2 separate regions of the Homo sapiens genome follow, and region 1 is linked to region 2. The links come from fine-mapping of genetic effects on gene expression. A gene starts in region 2. The other region holds a variant in brackets. All regions are shown on one strand. Distances are from middle to middle. Region 1 has its middle 47 kb from the start of NORAD. Region 2 holds the start of EPB41L1 (erythrocyte membrane protein band 4.1 like 1).

Region 1 (9,674 bases), 56 kb before region 2:
TGTGTGCGTGTGTGAGGGTGTGTGCCTTGCGTGTCTTCGCGAGTGGTGCGTGCGTATCTGGGTGAGGGTGCGTGTGTCTGCGTGTGTCTGTCGGTGAATGTATCTGTGAGAGGGTGTGTCCGAATGTGTAGCAGTGTGTACACCTCTGGGTGAGGGCGTGTGCCAGTGGCTTCGCTTGTGGCTGCAGCCTGTGGCGGGTGTGGGTGTGTGTGTGCGCGCGCGTCGCTGTGTGCGCGCCAGTGTAACTCCCGTGTGTGCGCGTGTGAGTGCGGGTGTGCTCCCGCGTAGCCCCCGTGTGCGTGTGCGCGGCTTTGTCTTCGCACTGCCGGGAGGAAGCGGTGGGGGCGGCGGTCCAGGCGCCGCCGCCGCTGGGAGCTGGGCACCTGGCCTGGGCGGTGGGTGGCGGCGGCGGGGGTGTCCCTTCCCCGTCGGGCAGAGACTCCCTGCTGGCAGGTGGGCGGCCACACCCCGGGGGTCGGGGGAACTGGGCTGACAGCAGAGCCCGCGTTCTGACCTGAGCTGGAGAGGAGGGCGTGTCCTGCTTGAAGCCCGTGTGCGTGCGTGCGTGCGTGTGTGTGTGTGTGTATGTGTATGCGTGCGCGCGCGTGTGTGGATGTGGGTGTGGGTGCGGGGTGGTGGTGGTAGCAACAGCAGTTTCCAGGCTGGTGACCAGCCGGTTCAGGGATTCATTTCCTGTTGTGGCCAGGGGACATGTCCCCTCCGGCCTCCCCCCAGCCCCCCACCAGACCTAGCCTGTGCCAGTCTCACCCGTGCAGGGCTCTGGGTGGGTGGGAAGGTAGGTGGGTAGAAGCTCAGGTGCCCTGAAAAGGACTAGGAGGGAGAACCACTCTCTTAAAGGGCCAGCTCCTCACTCCAGGGAATCCCTCCTCAGGAGACCTCTCTACTTTGAAAGAGATGTCTCTGGGTATGTCCATACCCCTTTCTCCAAGTACTGGTGCATACAGGCATTTCTAGATCTGTAGTCTGTGTGCATGTGTCCTCCCTGTGTACTTCTTGTACATTTGGGTGTATAGTGAACAGTGAAAATGTATCTCTTGATGTATATGTGTGTGTGTTTTTATAGGTTCTGGTATATTTGTTTTTATGTATGTGTAGTTGTTTGTATATTAGTCTGTGCATGTGGGTTTGCAGAGAAGTGGCATTTTGCTGCCAAATGGAATAGAAGAGAAACATTCTGTACCGGGCCACGCCATTTTTGAAAAACTGCGTGAAAAGGAAGTTTGGGAATTTAGTCTGTGGCTTTGTGGGTTTCAGATACCGGTACTGAAATGTAGGTAGGTTGGATTTTGACTGTGATACAAGGGTAGAGAGAAGTAGAGTCTTATAGGAGGAAGAAATTGTTCAGAGAGAAGGATATCCAAGTGCAAGAATTCTTCCATTAGTTCCAGTTCTTCCCCGTAACGTCACATCCCCCTTTGCTGCTTGGCTTGCCAAGATACAGGACACAGGATTTGGAGTGCAAAGGGAGGGAGCTGGGAGTGTAAAAGGAAGGAAGGTGGATGGGTGATAGGATTGGGGGCCAGCAGCAGATTTCTGCAATTCTTAAAAATGTTTCCCTGCCAAAAGCAGCAGAGGCTGGGGAAAGCTGAGCTTTCTGTCCCCTCCTTGAATCCCAGAATCCCGGGACATGGGAAAAGCTGGCCTGGAGTTCATGAGCTCTGGAGTCTGGGCCAGAGATCTTTTGCCTTGTTCTGTCACCGAGACTGGAGTGTAGGCAGTGTCACGATCTCAGCTCACTGCAGCCTCCGCCTCCTGGGTTCAAGTGATTCTCCCGCCTCAGCCTCCTCAATAGCTGGGACTATAGGAATGAGCCACCACGCCCAGCTAATTTTTTTTTTTTTCTTTTTTGAGACAGAGTTTCACTCTTGTCGCCTAGGCTGGAGTGCAATGGCATGATCTCGGCTCACTGCAACCTCCTCCTCCTGGGTTCAAGCAATTCTTCTTCCTCAGCCTCCCAAGTAGCTGGGATTACAGGCACCCACCACCACGCCCGACTAATTTTTGTATTTTTAGTAGGGACAGGGTTTTGCCATGTTGGCCAAGCAGGCTTTGAACTCCTGACCTCAGGTGATCCACCCGCCTCGGCCTCCCAAAGTGCTGGGATTACAGGCATGAGCCACCGTGCTCGGCCTAATTTTTGTATTTTTAGTAGAGACAGGGTTTCACCATGTTGGTCAGGCTGGTCTCAAACTCCTGACCTCAAGGGATCTGCCTGCCTCCGCCTCCCAAAGTGCTGGGATTACAGGCATGAGCCGCTGCGCCCAGCCTGGGATCTTCTTTTGACTTTAGCCAACCCCTTCATGTGTTTATCTCTTCACCCAACACTTTTTATTAAGCTTCTTTATGTGAAAGGGTCTAAACTCCCTAAGCCTTGGTTTACCTGGCTAGGCAGCTAGTGGGCTAGATTTTGGGACTTTGATGACCCTTCCCTTGCTCAGATTGCTAGAGTTTGTCTCGTTGTTACCCAGGTTCAGGAATCCACCCTTCTAGTCCCCAGAGATCCTGGCCATGGTCCTCACTACTAATCTCCCCACCAATATACTCTAGTCTAGAGCTGTGGTTTTTTCACCTCACCAACAGCAGCAGGGTTACCTGGGAGTTTGTTAGAAATGCAATTTATTGGCAGGGCGTGGTGGCTCACGCCTGTAATCCCAGCACTTTGGGAGGCGAGGCGAATGGATCACCTGAGGTCAGGAGTTCGAGAGCAGCCTGGCCAATATGGTAAAAATACAAAATTTAGCCGGGCATGGTGGCACGCGCCTGTAATCCCAGCTACTAAGGAGGCTGAGGCAGGAGAATCGCTTGAACCCAGGAGGCGGAGGTTGCAGTGAGCTGAGATTGCATCACTGCGCACCAGCCTGGGTGACAGAGCGAGACTCCATCTCAGGGAAAAAAAAAAAAAAGAAATGCAATTTCTTGGTTCTCACGCCAGACCTAGGAATTGATAACTCTGGAGGTGTGGCCCAGCAATCTATGTTTTAACAAACACAGGTAATTCTTATTTACTCTGGAGCTCAAGAGAGGTGGAGACAGGGAGCCAGGAAACATCTATTAATTGAAACACTTGGAAAGCCTCCCCTGTCCCTCACACAGGTGCCTGAAATAGCACTCAGGCCCCACCTGGTAGGTAGGAATTCTGCTTTCAAGTCCCAGGTCTTATGATCTTGGACAAGTCTCTCCTTCAGTGACTAATGCAATGACTCTTTGACAGTGTGCTGTGGACCAGGTTCTGAGCGAGGGGTTTCCCTGATCTGCTCAGTTTCTCCAATTCTTACTTTGATCTCTAAGGCCCTTCAGGATCCAGTTCCTGCCCACTTCTCTGGACAACAGCCACTTTGGCCTTTTAGTTCATCTAGGCACCATGAGCTCTTTTGCTTCTGGGATTTTGCACATCCTGTTCCCTTTGTCTAGCACACTCTTCCCCTGCTTCTTATCTTGATTAACTCCCACTCTTCATGTTTCAGCTCAATAGTCACTTTCTCAGGGGGGCCTTTGCCAACTCTCTAGGCCAAGTCAATTTTCCCTGTTACACATTCTTAGAGCTCTCTGTGTCTCACAGGGCTTGTGAGAATTTGTAATTGTTGTTTGTCCCTTTACTAGACTGTAAATGCCATGTGGGCAGGAACTTGCTTACTAATCTTCTTAGTGTCCCACACAGTGCCTGACTTATGATTTGTGTTCAATAAGCTTGTCAAACTGAGTTAATTTATAAAATGGCAGATGGCACTAAATGATACCCAAAGTTTCGTTTCAAGCCCTGACAATGTGTAATCCAAGCAGGCTTCAGCCTTTTCTCAAGTTGATTTACCTGTCTTTTTCAATGCTGCATCTCCCATCTCCTGGCTGTAGATTTGAGCACTCACCGTGGGTCCAGGCCCATGCTGGGCTCTGCTCTAGTGGAGGCAGGAGGAGGCTCCTCAGGAGACACAGCCTAGCTTGGGTTCTGTGTCTTCCTGGATTAGGTTTGTACTGGAATGAGAAGAGGAAAAGTATTGAAAGAGGAATCCAAATATCTGCGTCCATGCCTTGTTATGTGACTGAGGGCCAATCACTTTCCCCTTTTGGCACGTGTCCATCTCTGTAAAATGAAGGTATTGGGATGGGTGGCACACTTAGTAGTGGTTACTAGCACTGGCTCTACAGTCATTCGGGGCTTGCCATGTACTAGCTGGGGGGACTAGGGCAAGTGATTCCATTTCCTCATTTCCTTACTTGTAAAACAGGACCAGTACTAGTATCTGTTTCACAGGATTGTTTTGATAATTAAATGAGATAACATCCTTGGAATGCTTAGCATAATGTGAGTGCATAAGAAACATTTGATAAATGTCAACTATTATGACCATTATTGCTACTCCACAATTCAGCTCAACATTCTTGAAGGCCTTTGTATTGGGCCCTAGGCCTACAAAAACAGAAATGAATCCAGCAGTATTCACAGGTTGGGGGTGGGAGCAGACATGTAAAGATGCAATACCACCGCAAGGACAATGTACAAGCTGCCAGGGTGTGGCTGTTTATGGAGGAAAAGGCTTCCTGGAGGACAGAGATGGTGTTTGGGCTGGATTTTACCGTCTGGGTATTTGAAATAGCATGTGCAAAGGCAGAACGGCTTCTTAGGGGAACCCCAAATAGTTCCACATGGTTGGAATAGGAGGTGGTGAGTGGCAGGGATGAGGGTGGAGGAGTGAATGACTGGAGATAAAGCTGAGAGGAAGATTAGGGACAGATCTGGTGCAGGCCAAAGAGCCTGAGCAAGTCCTGCAGACGGCAGGGAGCTGGGGAAGAGGAGTAAGCCAACCAGGAAGGATCAGATTTGCATTTCAAAAACACAGCTCTCCAGGTGGTGACAGAGGATGGTTGGTCTGGGAGGAAGGGAAGGACTGTTGACCTGGAGACCTGGGCACAGAGGCTGCTAAACAAGCTCAATGGGAGGCCCCACTGGGGTGGATAGATACCTAGAACAGGCTGTTCTAGGAAGCTTTTTCCTCTGTAAGCCTGTCTTCAGCCTGGTTTCACGACAGCCTGGCCCTGGAAGGTGCAGGAGAGGTGAGAGTGACTTCTCATGAGGAGCCTCTGGGTCCTCTTTAACCTCTAAAGCTGCCTAATGAGTGGGAATCTGAAAAACAGAGTTTGAGGGTCCTAGGTCTGCTACTCAAAGGATGCACAGTGTATTAACTTCCTAGGGGTGCTGTCATGAAGCACGCAAACCAGGTAGCTTTGAACCACAGACATTTACTCCCCCACTTGTGGAGGCTAGAAGTCTGAAATCCAGGTGTCAGCAAGGTTGGCTCCTTCTGGAGGCTCTGGGGCAATCTGTTTCCTGCCTTTCTCCTAGCTTCTGGTGGTTGCCAGCAATCTTTGGCATTTCTTGGCTTGCAGCTGCATCTGCCTCTGTCGTCACGTGGCTTTCTCTCTGTTTCATTTCCTCTT[C/A]TAAGGACACCAGTCATATGGGATTTAGAACCCACCCTAGTCCAGTATGACCTCATTTGAACTTGAGTAATTGCATCTGCAAAGACCCTGTTTCCAAATATGGTCACATTATGAAGTTTTAGGTAGACATAAATTTGGGTTGGGAGGGGACACTGTTCAACCCAATACATGCAGGAAGTTGGGGAGGAGTGCATGCCTTTTAGTTCCACAGGGCTACATCCAAATTTAGGCTTTGCAGTGGAGCCTCTATGAAATGGAGACAGTAGGCCAGGCATGGTTGCTCACGCCTGTAATCCCAGCACTTTGGGAGGCCGAGGTGGGCAGATCATCTGATCAGATTTGTATTTCAAATTTGAGTGATCTGAGGCGGATTATTCCTGAGGTCAGGAGTTTGAGACCAGCCTGGCCAACATGGTGAAACGCTGTCTCTACTAAAAATACAAAAATTAGCCAGGCGTGGTGGCGGGCACCTGTAATCCCAGCTACTCGGGAGGCTGAGACAGGAGAATTGCTTGAACCTGGGAGGCGGACATTGCAGTGAGCTGAGATTGTGCCACTGCACTCTAGCCTGGGTGACAGAGCAAGACTCCGTCTCGAAAAAACAAAACAAAACAAAACAAAGAAATGGGACAGTAGCACCTACAGTAGTGTCATGGTCATGAGACTTGATCAAAATAACAGATATGAGCATGCCTAATGAGGTAGTACACAGTAGGCACTCAATACCTACTTCCTTTCCAGCTCTCCCTTCTCTGCACTTAGGAGCTTGGACAAGTCACCTAATCTTGCTTTACTTTCCTCATCTATCAAATGTGAATAATCATCATCCAGCCCTGCCTACTTCACCAAATTGCGATCCCAGGAGATAATGAGAAAGCTCTTTGTAAATTGCTTAAGGGCTTGTAGCTGTGATTTTTAATTATAATAATAATCATCATAATAACCCTTGGCCATTGTCATATCCGCTGCATTCTCCTCAGAGCCCAGCCCAGCCCAGCCCGCTCCTCTCCTGAGACAGGTCCTCTTTGCCTGTTTGTGCTCAGAGGCATCCCATGAAGTGTCGCCTCTGTCTGAGTTGGGAGGACCTTAGAGATGGTCCTTGCCGTTGCCCTTATTAGCCTGAGGAGGGAAACATGCTCAGGGAGAAAAAGTGACACCCGCAAAGTCACACAGCTGGTCAGTGGTAATTGGAACACCTTATCTGTGGCTCCTGTCTTCAGTCTGAACAGTGCTTTTTCCCTAGTTGCAACTTTAGGCCCAGAAGCAGGAGCTCAGGGCAGATAGAGGCCTGGAGTGGGCTCTGCATATGTTCCAGAGGTGAGGATGCAACAGGAGAGTGTCCTGCTGTCAGGATTAGAACCCCAAGAAAGGGGTCCCTGGGCTCTGAGTGAGCAGGCTGAATGGGCCGGTTGTTCTGTTATCACTCTGGCTATGGCCATCTCTGCCTACTCTGGTGGGAGGGCCACCATGCGGGGCTCTGGAGTCTAGATGTAACCCAAGGCTTCAGTGTCCCTGTTGACAGCCAGGGTGGCATTTCTCAGCAGGTCCTGTCCCTCTAAGCCTTGCCTTGGTGGGTCTAGGGAAAGCTCTGGGAAAGAGAGAGGGCTTATACTGTCCTGGTAGTTTCTGGCAAGTCATCTTCCTTTCCCCCCACACTGGGGAAGCCAGGCCCCTCCTTGGCCCCTTGATTCTTCTTTCCTTTCCTCCCTCCTCTTCTCAGTTTGCTCTCTCCCTTCTGTCTGCTTTCTCCCCTTCCCTCTCCCCACCTTGTCCCCAGATTAGAGGTCTAAAGATAGAGTCTCCAGGCCCACTTCAGGTGGGTGGTTTTGGGTTTGCTTGAGGCCACCTAGAATTAGAAAGTCTAGAGTCTTCCTCATAAGAGGCTCACTCTGGTGACTTATAATCAACTGCTTATGTTTATTGGCTTACTGTGTGCCAGGCCCTGTGCTAAGCGCTTTACATGCCTTATGTCTTTTAATCCTTACAACTACCAAGTGAGGCAGAGATGATGATCCCCGTCGTATTACAGGAGGCTAAATAACTTGCCCAAGGCCTACGCAGTCCTCAGCCAGCAAGTGGCACAGCTGGGATTTCAATCTAGATCTGTCCGAAGCCCACCGGTACTCTTGAGTCTTTCCTATATGGCCTGTGACAGAGCCTGCGGGAGCATTTAGGTGTCCACAGAGGGGCATGCATTTGCTCAAATTCAGAGAACAAATTCTTGACTCTGAAAGAAGGGCTTCCAATCGAGGAATCTTCCCTCCCAGGCCTGCACTCTGGCAGCACCTCCGGGACTGGCCTTTCTACAGCATCAGCCTTGGGGCCCGCCAAGGCTCTGAGCCCATCTGGTTCTAGGCAGCTGCCCACCTGTAGGAGAGACACTGCATCGGTATGGGGGGTGGTGACAGGGCCCATCTGAAGGTACTTGCCTTTTTTCCTAGTTATTGTTTTGTCTCTGGCCACCTCAATTTTTCATTGAATCGAGTCTTCCACTTAAAGAAGCATATCATTTGCAAAGAGCATTACTTTTGTCTCCTCACAAGACTGCTTGGGAGCTTGGATATGCTGCAGGCTCAGTGACGGGTGGAACTCTGGAAGAAGTGGGGAGGGAGGCAGAGACCGGAGCCAGGAGACCCAGGTTCAGAGGTACATATCCACCAGAAGAAAAAAAGGAGCTGGCCTGAGGGCCAGAGGGAGGTGGCCTGGAGAGAGGGAGGAATAGGAAACCTGCTCTCACCCCATGTGCAGCCCGGGAGTCCAGACTCCCTCCCAGTCAGGGCTGCTGGTCTCAGACTGTCACTCAGGAATCTGGGCAGCTGCAGTCAGCTTGTTGAGCCTCCACCCACCCCAACCGAGACCATTATGTTGGTCAGCCTGGCTCAGCCCAGCCACCTGCCTGCCTGAGCAGGTGGCTCAGTCAGAAGGGACCTTGGTGAAGGAGTGGTGGCTTTGAAACTTCTATCCACAGAGCCACTCTTCATAGGCAAGGGAGCAGAAGTTCAATTTGTGAAACACCTAAAAGGGGGAGCAGCTTAGCACCCCACCCCATTCCCCTCCCTCCTAGGGTTCCCTAAGGCTGGGCCTCTCAAACTTTGTTTCCCCCTAAGAGCAACAAAGGTGAGCATGCTAAAAAGCAAAATAAAACAAAACAAAACCTGTGTGCCATGGCTCATGCCTGTAATCCCAGCACTTTGGGAGGCTGAGGCAGGTGGATCACCTGAGGTCAGGGGTTCGAGACCAGCCTGACATGGTGAAACCCTGTCTCTACTAAAAATACAAAAATTAGCTGGGCATGGCTGCATGCACCTGTAATCCCAGCTACTAGGGAAGATGAGGCAGGAGAATCGCTTGAACCTGGGAGGCGGAGGTTGCAGTGAGCTGAGATCACACCATTGCACTCCAGCCTGTGTGACAGAGTGAGACTCTGTCTCAAAAAACAAAACAAAACAAAACAAAACAAAACAAAAAAAACAAAAAAACCCAGCACTCTTTTTCCAGACCTCACCCAAGAGATTCAAACCCAGCTGCTCCATGGGCGGGGTGGGGGGTGGGCGTCAGATCCGAGGTAGGGCCCCGGAAGCAGCCTGCTGTAACAGTCTCCCCATCGAGATGATTGGGACACAGATGGTTCTCAGATTGCCCTTGTAGAAGGCTGGCCTCAGATGTTCATGAACTTCTGAAATATGGCATGCACAATGTTAAGAGTGTGCATTGTCCCTAGGAGAGGATCCACAGGCACCGTCTGTCTTGGAGTCACAACCCATACAACTTTAGAACTGCTGTCTTCAGGGTTGTTTTGCGCAGTTGGAGCCTAACGTCTAGAGAAAGGTCACCAGGGAGCCAATGGCAGAGCTGGGTGGAGAGGGCTGGTCTCTCATGCCTCTCAGCACATTACTGGCTTTGCTGTGAAGGTGGTCAGGGACTGTAGACCTGTCCCTCTGTCTGGGCCTCAGTTTTCCTAGCTGTAAAATGGGGGTTGGACAGGATAATCCCAAGTTTCCATGCAGCTTTGATCTGTGGTTCTGGAAGTCAGGTCTCCTGCTGCCCAGTCCAAGTTCTTTGTCCTTTTCCTTGCTCCTCCCTGGCTTCACCCACCACTGGGGGGACCTCCCACTTTTGCATCTTCCATCTTCAGAGATTCTGGACACAGCCTGCATTCTGGCCCCTTGAGTCCCTTCTGTCTGACCACATGCCCAAATGCTCAAGTCCTTTCTCCCTTT
Region 2 (9,674 bases):
TATACTGTGACCTGCTATGCAGTTTGCAGGCATCCTCATCATTCCACACTAGAATAAGGCTTAACGCAGGAGGGTGTGGTTCCCACGGTCTGGGCTGGATGGAAGGTTACAGGGAAGGGTAAGGTCTCTGGGAACTGCAGTGCTTTGAGAGGCTTCTTAGAGAAGATGGAGAAGAGGAAGTAGGGGGCAGCTGGAGGGGGGAGGTCCCTGCAAGGTGGGCACTGCCACCTGTCCACCCTGCCTACTTCCTCCACCCAGACACAGCTGCCCTGTGGTGCCCTCTGCAGAGTGCCAACCTCAGTGAAACAGCCTGCCAGGCAGCACTTCCCAGAATGGTGGGTCATGCTGCTCTGTTAAGTTTGGCTCCGCTAGCTCCCTCCCTCTGGCCCAGCTCCCAGTGGCCTGGGGCTGTCACTGGGCCCGGCTGCCCTCCCGGGCAGGAGCCAGCTGCCCTCCAGCTCTCTTGTCCTGGAACACCCTCCTCCCCATGACCTCACCTTTAACCCAGCTTGGCTTAGTGTCTTCTCCTCCAGGAAGCCTTTTCTGATCCCTATGGGCTGAGTTAGGACCCCAGAGTATCTAAACCTGTACTGACCAAAAGAAATATAATGTGAGCCACACGTGCAAGCCACACGCAATTTTAAATTTTCTAGTAGCCACATTTTTTAAAAAAGTCAAAAGAAACAGATGTAATTATTCAAATGATTTGTTTTATTTAACCCAATACATTCATAAGGTTTTTTTGTTTTTTTTTTTTTTGAGACGGAGTTTCGCTCTTGTCCCCCAGGCTGGAGTGCAATAGCACGATCTCAGCTTACTACAACTTCCGCCTCTTGGGTTCAAGCAATTATTCTCCTGCCTCAGCCTCTGGAGTAGCTGGGATTATAGGCACATGCCACCATGCCCGGCTAATTTTTGTATTTTTAGTAGAGATGGGGTTTTACCATGTTGGCCAGGCTGGTCTCGAACTCCTGACCTCAGGTAATCCGCCCACCTCGGCCTCCCAAAGTGCTGGGATTACAGGTGTGAGCCATGCCCGAGACATATTACATTCTTTTTGGTATGAAATCTTCAAAATCTGATTTTTATATTTACAGCACATTTTTATTTGAACGAGCCACATTTCAAGTGCTCCATAGCAACTAGCCATGGCTAGTAGCTACCATATTGGTTAGCACAGACCTAAAAACAGGGAGTTTATAAGGGTTGAAGCTCAGAGTTTGGCACCAGACATACCTGTCAGTCATATTCCGACCCTGCCATTTATTAGCTGGATGAACTTTGGGGTCGCTAACCCTTCTGAGCCTCAGTTACTTCAGCTGTGAAAGGGATTAATAATTTCAGTGCCAGAGAATTGCTTTGAGGATTAAACAAATGAATGTGTGTCCAGTGCCAGGCACAGAGGAAGTGCTCAGAAAATGGTGGTGCTTCACCTTCTAGTATCCTCTGATGTGCTGGGGTACGTGCCTCCACTAGATTGATTGTGAATTCAAGGGCAGAGGCTGTATTCAATTCCTCCAGCCTTCCCCAGTGTCCAGGGCCTGGCTTGGTGTGAGCATTACTGCTTGCTGAATGAAAGATTAAGTCCTTGGGCTGGGAGTGCTCCCCACCCCACCCTGCTTGCCCAGTAGTCAAGGGCCCTGGTGGCTGGGAGTCAGGAGACCACTGACTACTTGTGGGTGACCTTGGCAAGTCACTGCTTTGCTTAGAACCTTGGTTTCCTCCTTTGAAAGATAAAAGGGAGATAGGAGGGGCCCTGCCTGAAGTGTTTGGTTGAATCTCTGCCCCGCAGTGACCTTGGGGGTCTGTGGCTGACTCTGTGTCCCTTGCTTTCCCAGCCAGTGGAGCGAATCACTTCCGTTCTCCTCCTGGCTTTCCTGTATCCTGGACTTTTGCACCATTAAGTTCCATCCAGTTAAAATTTAAGAGGAAAGAATTTCTCCTGCCTCCTAGACAGAGCAGAGAGGGAATGAAGGGTCCTGTCCCTTCTCTTCTGCCAGCATCTGCTGACCTCCCATCACAGCAGCCCAGTGACAGACATGGGGCAGGGATTCTCCCATTTTATAGGTGAGAAAATTGAGGCTCAGAGATGTCAAATAACCTGCCTAAGTAATACAAAAAGAAATGGTAGCGCTAGGGCTGGAAGCAGAATTTGCAGCTAAGGAACTGAGGAACCCCTTTTTTGGATGGGCTCCTCTTTCCTTCTTTCTCCATGAGACTTGGTCCTAGGTTGAGTCCTATCCCTGTGCCTCAGTTTCCCTGCCTGGGGAATGAAAACAGTCAAGTAACTCAAGTAGTAATTGCAACTGATGCCTATGGGGGCCATACATTCTTAAGTGTCTCTCCTGCTTCCTCCAGCCTGATTTTTCTGGAAAGGGTTATTGTTGGGTAAAGTGGAAAGTATGTAGTCCAGGGAGCCAGTGTAACTGTGTAAGCGTAACCTTGGGCAAGTCACTCCCACTCTGAGCCTCAGCCTGCCTATTTATAAGATGGGGGCCGGGCGCGGTGGCTCACGCCTGTAATCCCAGCACTTTGGGAGGCCGAGGCGGGCGGATCACGAGGTCAGGAGATCGAGACCATCCTGGCTAACATGGTGAAACCCCATCTCTACTAAAAATGCAAAAAAAAATTAGCTGGGCATGGTGGTGGCAGGCGCCTGTAGTCCCAGCTACTCGGGAGGCTGAGGCAGGAGAATGGCGTGAACCCGAGAGGCGGAGCTTGCAGTGAGCCGAGATCGCGCCACTGCACTCCAGCCTGGGCAACAGAGCGAGACTCCGTCTCAAAAAAGAAAAAAAAAAAGATGAGGGATGATATTATCTCACAAGATGCTGTGCAGATGACACACAAAAGTATTTTGCAAACTGGAAAGTGCTAATAGAAATGTTAGTGAATAATAATAATAATCAAAATAATTAAAATAGCAGAAGCCTCATTTTCTGTGTGGTCTCAATGACCTGAAGTGAATTGAGCCCTTTGGGTATAAATGCAGAACGATGTCTGGGAACATCCTGCCTCGGTCTTTGGAGTGTAGCCTGGATTCTCCTGGGAAAGTGAGAGGCTCCATCTGGTTGAGGAGGGTGGGAAAGTGGCCCTGCCCCAGGGGAGGAGTGGGGAGGGCTTCAGCCTGGGGGAAGGAAGGAAAGGGAGATGGCCAGGGAAGGAGAGTTGAACTAAGAGGAACAGAGAGAGCCTTGGCCATGCAGCCCAGAGCCTCCTGCCCACGGGAGCCCACGATTGGGAAGGCTCAGCCAGCAGGGGAGACTGAGCCTATTTGGAATCAAAATACTTGAAGGCAGGCAGTCAAGAATCTCTTAGCAGCTGTGCATCTGAAACAATAAATGCATCTGGTATAACTCCTGAGTTTTATTGGTCCTTTCACTCATTCATTTAAATAAATGTGTGGTGAGCTAAACTCAAACAGAGCACCTTGTGTGGCAAAGTGACTTGCCCAAGGCCACGGCCCCAGGGGCCTGTGTGAGACTCCCTTGGGAGCTCCTGGGAAAAAGTGAATTTGAAAGGCCTGGGGATGAGAAGTCCAAAGGCAAAGGACAGGATTTGTACAGAAGGCTGCCAAGCAGGACACTCGTCCTTCTGTCAGTCGGCCTGGGCAGATTTGTCTGTCTTCCCACCTTCTGTCTGGAGGGTGGGCCTGTTCTCTAGGACTGGGAGAAGCTGGCTTCATTCTGCTCTCTGCTCTTCATCCGCTGCTGAACCTGGTGAGCAGGGGGAGTGAAGGCACCGGAAGCTTTGTCTAAAGACACCTGATGAAGGAGGTTTAAGTTGGAGAAGAGAAGGCTTGCTTTGGGCATGGTACAAAGGGACGCAATTGTATCTTGAGTTCTCTAAAGGGTGCTGAGGAGAGGGCATAGCCTCATTCTTTGGAGGCCCTAGAGTGCCTATGAGGACCCAGGGTAGAAGGTCACCATGATGGAGCAGCACACTGGGAGGGAGGAGTTGGGGGAGGGAGGTGCCTGGCTCTATAGTGTGTGACAAGCAGAGATGGAGAGCCCACTGGTGAGGCTGATACTGAGGGAATCGCATCAGGGAAGGATGGAGGGCTCAGCTCACATCGAGGCTGCTTCCCAGCTTGGGGCCTCTGTGCTTCCCAGGGCAGTGGATTCTGTGGTAAGAACTATGGCCAGCACATGGTAGGTACTTAGGAATGATGTGAAGAATGAATGAATAGTTGTGTATGCCTGGAGGTGAGGGTGGTGACTGGGGGTTCGCGGTCATATGGGTTGCAGTGGACCCATGGACAGAAATCTTTGGAGATCATGCTGCGGTTACCCACCATTCTCTCTATGCCTTCGCCATGAACTAGGGACCCTAGAGATAGGAACGTCCAGCCCTTTCGTCATTTGCAAATGAGGCCCAGAGCATGGAACAACTTGCCCAAGGGTACTTGCTGAGCCAGTGGCAGACCTGGACTGGAACCCAGGCCCTCTCCCTCCCAGAGTCCTCTGTGGCTTGAGGTCCCCACCTTCGGATTGTGTGAGATGGAGGTGCTGCAGTGGTTGGACTGGTTTTTTTAGTGGGTAACAGTGCTCCTGGAGGGGAGGAGCATGGCTTACCTTGGTTTTGAGCCATGATCTCTGCCACAAGCTGCTTGGCCAGCCCCTGCCCTTTCCTGGAGCTCAGGTGCACACTCAGCCTGTGCTCAGACACATACAGCAAGTGCGCCTGTACACAGGCCCCATCCCCAATAGGTCCCTGGGCTCTCACTGTTACACTTACTGTCATTGTCACCAAGGCGCATGTGGACAAATGTACACATAGACACCCTCTGGACACACTCAGAGGCACAGAGGATTCCCAGGAGACAGTTGTAATACCTCCTCCCGGTGGGGGAGGACGCCGAGTCCTAGGCGGGTTCTGCCCTGTCGCTGTGCTGCAGGGGTGGTGAGGGGATCCGGCTCCGGTGGGATGGGAGGCCCACTGAGGCTGAGTCACCCCTTCTGAGTCAGGCATGCATCCCCCTCTTCTCTCCTCCCCCTCCCTTTCTCGCTGATGAGCCCCCAAGAGGGCTTGGCGAGAGCAAGGAGGCCCGGGGCTGGCTAGGACCAGGGTGGGGGCAGCCGGGGCGCTCGAGAGGCCCCCCAGCTGCACAGTCCCGCAGTGGTCTGGGAACTGCCCGTGTGGCACGGACCGGGAGGAGGTGGCCTGGGAGCCTGAGAGAGAGGGCGGGGCGCGGGGGGAGGTGGGTGGTAGAGGAGACAGGCAGAGAGGAGGCGGAGGCAGGGGCAGGGCCGCGGCGCGCTGGGAGGCAGGCGCAAGCGGCGGCCGCCCCTGGGCTGGGCTCCGAGGCCGGGGCGGGGGCGGGGGCTGGCCGCGCGTCGGGCGCCAGGCCCGGGGCTGTGGGCACCGTGCCCAGCCCCTGGCGCACGCCGAGCCGCCGCCGCCGCCGCCGCTGCTGCAGTCGGCATCCATCAGCGGGCGGGGGTGTCGCCGAACAGGCTGCTCCGCAGAGCCCGCCGCGACCCCGCGCCGCCCCGCCCCGCGGCCTGCCTGCCAGAGGAGCCGAGGGGGCCGCCCCTCGCCCAACCTGCCCGACATGGGGAACCCCGGGCCCAGGTAGGCACATGGGGGAATCAGGTGGCTCTCGGGGCCGGGGGCTTGCAACATCTAGGCCCAGCCTCCAGCCCTGGGGAGGAACGGGGGCGAGGCCGAGAACTGAGTTTTCAGGCTGTTGGTCCCCTGGCCAGTGTGGGGGAGGGTCTCGCTGTTCCTCCCTACCTACCGGTCTGCAGCCTCCTCCAAGGCCTGGAGAGAGGATCCGGAGGCTGGGGGTTGGCGGGGGGTTGGTCCTGCTGTAGGATGAGCGGTGGGTGGGCGCTGGGCTCCCACCGGCTGGCCCAGTCTCTTTTCGGAGAGCACTCCTGCTGCCGCCTCCAGAGGCCAAGGGCTCTTTGGATTTCTGCTGCTTCTGACGCTGCAGGAGGAGTTCTTGGCTGGAGCCTGGGATGCTGGCGAGCCCTTGCCCTCATCTCTCCTCACTCTGGTTACGGACCCTTCCCCGCTCTGGGCTTGCCTCCCCTTCCGTCTCCCTTCCAAGTACCTCAGAGCTGCTAGGAGGGATCTTAGCCCTAGGACTTCTGCAGTTCTGGCCTGGCATTGTCCTGGCCAGTGACCGTCCCCTGATCAGAGGGAGAGGGCTTGTGTGTCCCACTTGTGTCTGGCACCTTCACACTTGGGGAGGTCCAAGGGCCCGAGAGGCTGGGGTCTCAGGGATGGGCATGGGGGGCCAATGTCTACAGCCATTGGGGTACTTACTGGGTGCAGAGGCCACTGACTGGCAGACGTATATGGCTCAAAGTGGTCCATGGAGACCTTGAAGTCTGGACAAGGACCAAAAGGGAGTTCTGGGGATGCTGGTCTCTCCCTCAGCTGCCAGCCATCGTCGTTGCTTTTCCCTCGGAGCTCTGAGGATGCATTGGTGGGGGAGAGAGCACCACGTGTTCCCACATTCACTTCTGGATCCGCATAGCACCTCCTCTGCACCCAAAGGTGGGAATGTGAGACGGCCAGATTTAGGACCTCTCCAGGGCTGTGCGGGGTCCAGCGGCTTGGCTTCATTCCCACCCCATCCCCCCACCCTCAGCATTAGGAGCCTTCCAGAATCAGTGGCACTTGAGCCAGGTCAAGATCTGGGGCCTGGATGGTGCCCTCCGCAGCTCTTGGAAGACAGTGCCTCCTGTCCCGGGCAAGGGTGTGGAGAATAGAGGCAGCTGTGTGCCTCTCTGCCCACCCATTCCTCCAGATGGAGCCTGCGGCAGAGGCAGCCTGTGCCAGCCTCCCCTATGAGCCACCGTGGCCCAGGAAGGCTCTGCCAGCTCTGTGCAAGGATGGAGCTGGCTTCTCCTGGCCAGCCTGAGGTCATGCCTGCCTGGCAACCCAGGCATAGTATTTATGGCATGCAGAGCACAGTCCCTGGGATTTCAGGGGCACCTCAAGGCAGTCCTGGAGGAGATCAGTGCAGAGGGCATTGTTCCTATTAAAGCCCTTCCTGGGCTATGTGACAGTCCTCCTGGGCTCAGCCCTGTGAGCTTCTTGAAGAGCTTCTTCCATAGAATCCTGCATGAAAACAATGCTTGGTCAGGTAGTCCTCACTCAGTCGATATTGAAAGGTTGAACGGGGCCTAGAGAGTAAGAGTGACTTGGCCAAGGTCACAAAGCAGCTGAGCGGGGGAGTCAGCATTAATGTACCCAGGTCTTCCACCTCTTGTTCTGGGGCTCTTGCAGCTCAGGTGCTGGCTTCCCTGCTGCGGTGGTTGTGCTATAGACAGGACTCTGCCAAGGGCTAGGCATTGTAGCCTGGAGCCTGAGGCTACCTGATCCCTTAGGAGGGGTGTTATGTTGGCCTCCCAGCCCTTGCCCTCAGTAGGTGAGCAGGAGAGGTCAGGGCTGAGAGAAAGGGCCGTGGGTGGTCCTGGACCCTCTTGGAAGTGCATAGAGCTGAGAGGATGCCAGGTGCCCAGGGATGTTCTGGCCTGAGCCTCCAGGGGGCAACAGAGAGTTTTCTGACTTCAGGCTGTGGTGGGAGGTGCTTGTTAGCACCTGCCGGGACTTCCCTAAGAGCCCCTTTCTGGGCTTCTCTGTCCCATTTGTTAAAAGGGGACACAGGCGTGCGCCATTGCGCACGCCTGTAATCCCAGCACTTTGGGAGGACGAGGCGGGCAGATCACAAGTTCAAGAGATGAAGACCATCCTGGCCAACATGGTGAAACCCCGTCTCTACTAAAAATACAAAAATTAGCTGGGCGTGGTAGTGCACGCCTATAGCCCCAGCAACTCGGGAGGCTGAGGCAGGAGAATCGCCTGACCCCAGGAGGCAGAGGTTGCAGTGAGCCGACATCGTGCCACTGCACTCCAGCCTGGAGACAGAGCGAGACTCCCTCTCAAAGAAAAAAAAAGGGCGGGGAGGATGATCATCTCTGCCTGGAGATAAATACCAATGATTACACAATCAAAGTGATAGTATTTATTGAAACTTACTGTATGCCATGTACTGCAAGAAGTGCTTTGAGTCATTTCACAGTAACCCTGTCAGATAGATGTGATTAATTATCCACTTTTTACAGAGGAGAAACTGAGGCTCAGAGAGGTTATGTCACTGGACTAAAGTTACGCAGCTGGAAAGTGCGAGGCGGTCTGAGTCCAGAGCCCTTCTTTCTACCATGACATTTACTGGGGGCAATATCTGGAAGTACCAGGTTGGTGTCCAGTGGAGCCAGGCAATTCATTGGTAGGCCAGGGCCAGTCCAGGTGGAGAGGTGTGTGAGGGGTGTGTGTGTGTGTGCCTGGTGAGGCAAGGGTGGCTTTGTGGACTGAATATTACTATAGTGCTGAGGGGTAGGGGTAGATAAGTACTGACTAGGAGCTCTCAGAGAAGGATTAGCCTTGGCCTTCTCCTTCCTGGCCAGGGTCCCCCAGAAGTGGGGAAACACCAGACTCCCTGCTCCCATTGGCTTTTAGGGAAGATGGGCTGGCTCTGGACACATCCCGAGGCCACAGTGGGGACTGGGCTAAGGAGGCCCTGTGGGCAGGGAGCTGAGCCTTGGTGGATGGGTGGGGGTGGAGCAGGCTGGCACTGCTTCCTTTGTGGGCTAGAGGCTTGTGGATCAGAATAGTAACAGCTAACATTTATTGAGCATTTATTATGTGCCAGGCCCAGTTTTAAGGGCTTCCATGTACAACTCATACGTTCTTCACAAAGCCCTGTGAGGTGTAGATGAGGTATAGGAGTTATTCTTCCCGTTTTACAGATTGATGGAGCTGTGGCTTAGATAGTTGTTCAAGGTCAAATAGCTAGGCTGTGGGGGAGTCAGGATTCAAACCTAGGCAGTGTGGGTCAGAGCCATGTTCCTGAAGGCCATGCCAGGCAGCCTGTAGTTTCTCAGAGGCCATACTCTGTTTTGTTCAAGTTGAAATAGTCACTCAGTCAGATGCATCCCTCTCCTCAAAGGCCTCCCAGTCTAGCTGGGAGAGATGCAGACATGACACACTAAAAGTAAAGAGTGTGCTATTGCATAGGCTCAGCATGGATTCCTATTTTGGTGCTCAGGGAAGGCTTCAAGAAGACGGGGACCTTTGAGCTGGGCACTGAAGGCCAAGTCGGATTTCGATGGTTGAAGGGGGAAGGGCACCCACTTCCCCAGGTCAGAGGGGAAGGAAATAGGAATGCCTCTGAAGAAGAGTGGGCGGTCTGATGTGCGTGGAACAGATAGTGTGTGTGGCGGAGTGTGAGCTGGGAGGTGACTCAGAAAGTCACCTAGTGTTTGGGTTTTTGATGGAGCTCTGGAATCCACCAGACGTAGGCTATAGTCACAGCAATGCATTGTATTAGCCACGTGGCCTTGGGCACATCACTCAGCTGGCCCAAACCTCAGTTTCCTCATTCGTAAAATGCAGATAAACATGCCTGTCTCACAGGGACCATGTTGTGGTTGTTATATAAAGCACCTAGTGTAATGCTAACACATTGCAGGAACTCAGTAAACATTACTTCTCTCCCGCTTCTGTCTCTCTTAAATGTCAGGCCAAGGTGTTTCGACTTGACGTGAGCCGGGATGCTCTAGGAATCTTTGCAGGATTTTAGTCTGCTGAGGAGCATGACAGAACTGTGTTTTGGGAAGGTCCTTTTGGCAACCGTATGATCCACAGGAGAGGGTGGACGT

What was found.
Region 1: its variant is fine-mapped to the expression of EPB41L1 in tibial artery (GTEx, PIP 0.96).

What each region holds. Positions count from the first base shown.
Region 1 is chr20:36,093,120-36,102,793 of GRCh38, forward strand. It overlaps a transcript of EPB41L1 not described here. Among named protein-coding and RNA genes, the nearest start is that of NORAD, 47 kb to the left of the region's middle. RefSeq lists enhancers at 164-1,115, 2,244-2,745, 4,609-5,117 and a silencer at 463-672. The variant C/A (reference allele first, on the strand shown) is at 5,455.
Region 2 is chr20:36,149,326-36,158,999 of GRCh38, forward strand. EPB41L1 (erythrocyte membrane protein band 4.1 like 1) reads left to right here and starts at 5,415. Exons shown (of 22, transcript NM_012156.2): 1 at 5,415-5,571. It overlaps EPB41L1-AS1 (EPB41L1 antisense RNA 1), which reads right to left and starts at 6,435. Exons shown (of 4, transcript NR_147703.1): 1 at 6,271-6,435; 2 at 5,738-5,929; 3 at 498-585. LOC124904893 (a long non-coding RNA gene) reads right to left here and starts at 5,121. Exons shown (of 2, transcript XR_007067572.1): 1 at 4,572-5,121; 2 at 3,344-3,761. RefSeq lists a silencer at 5,154-5,353.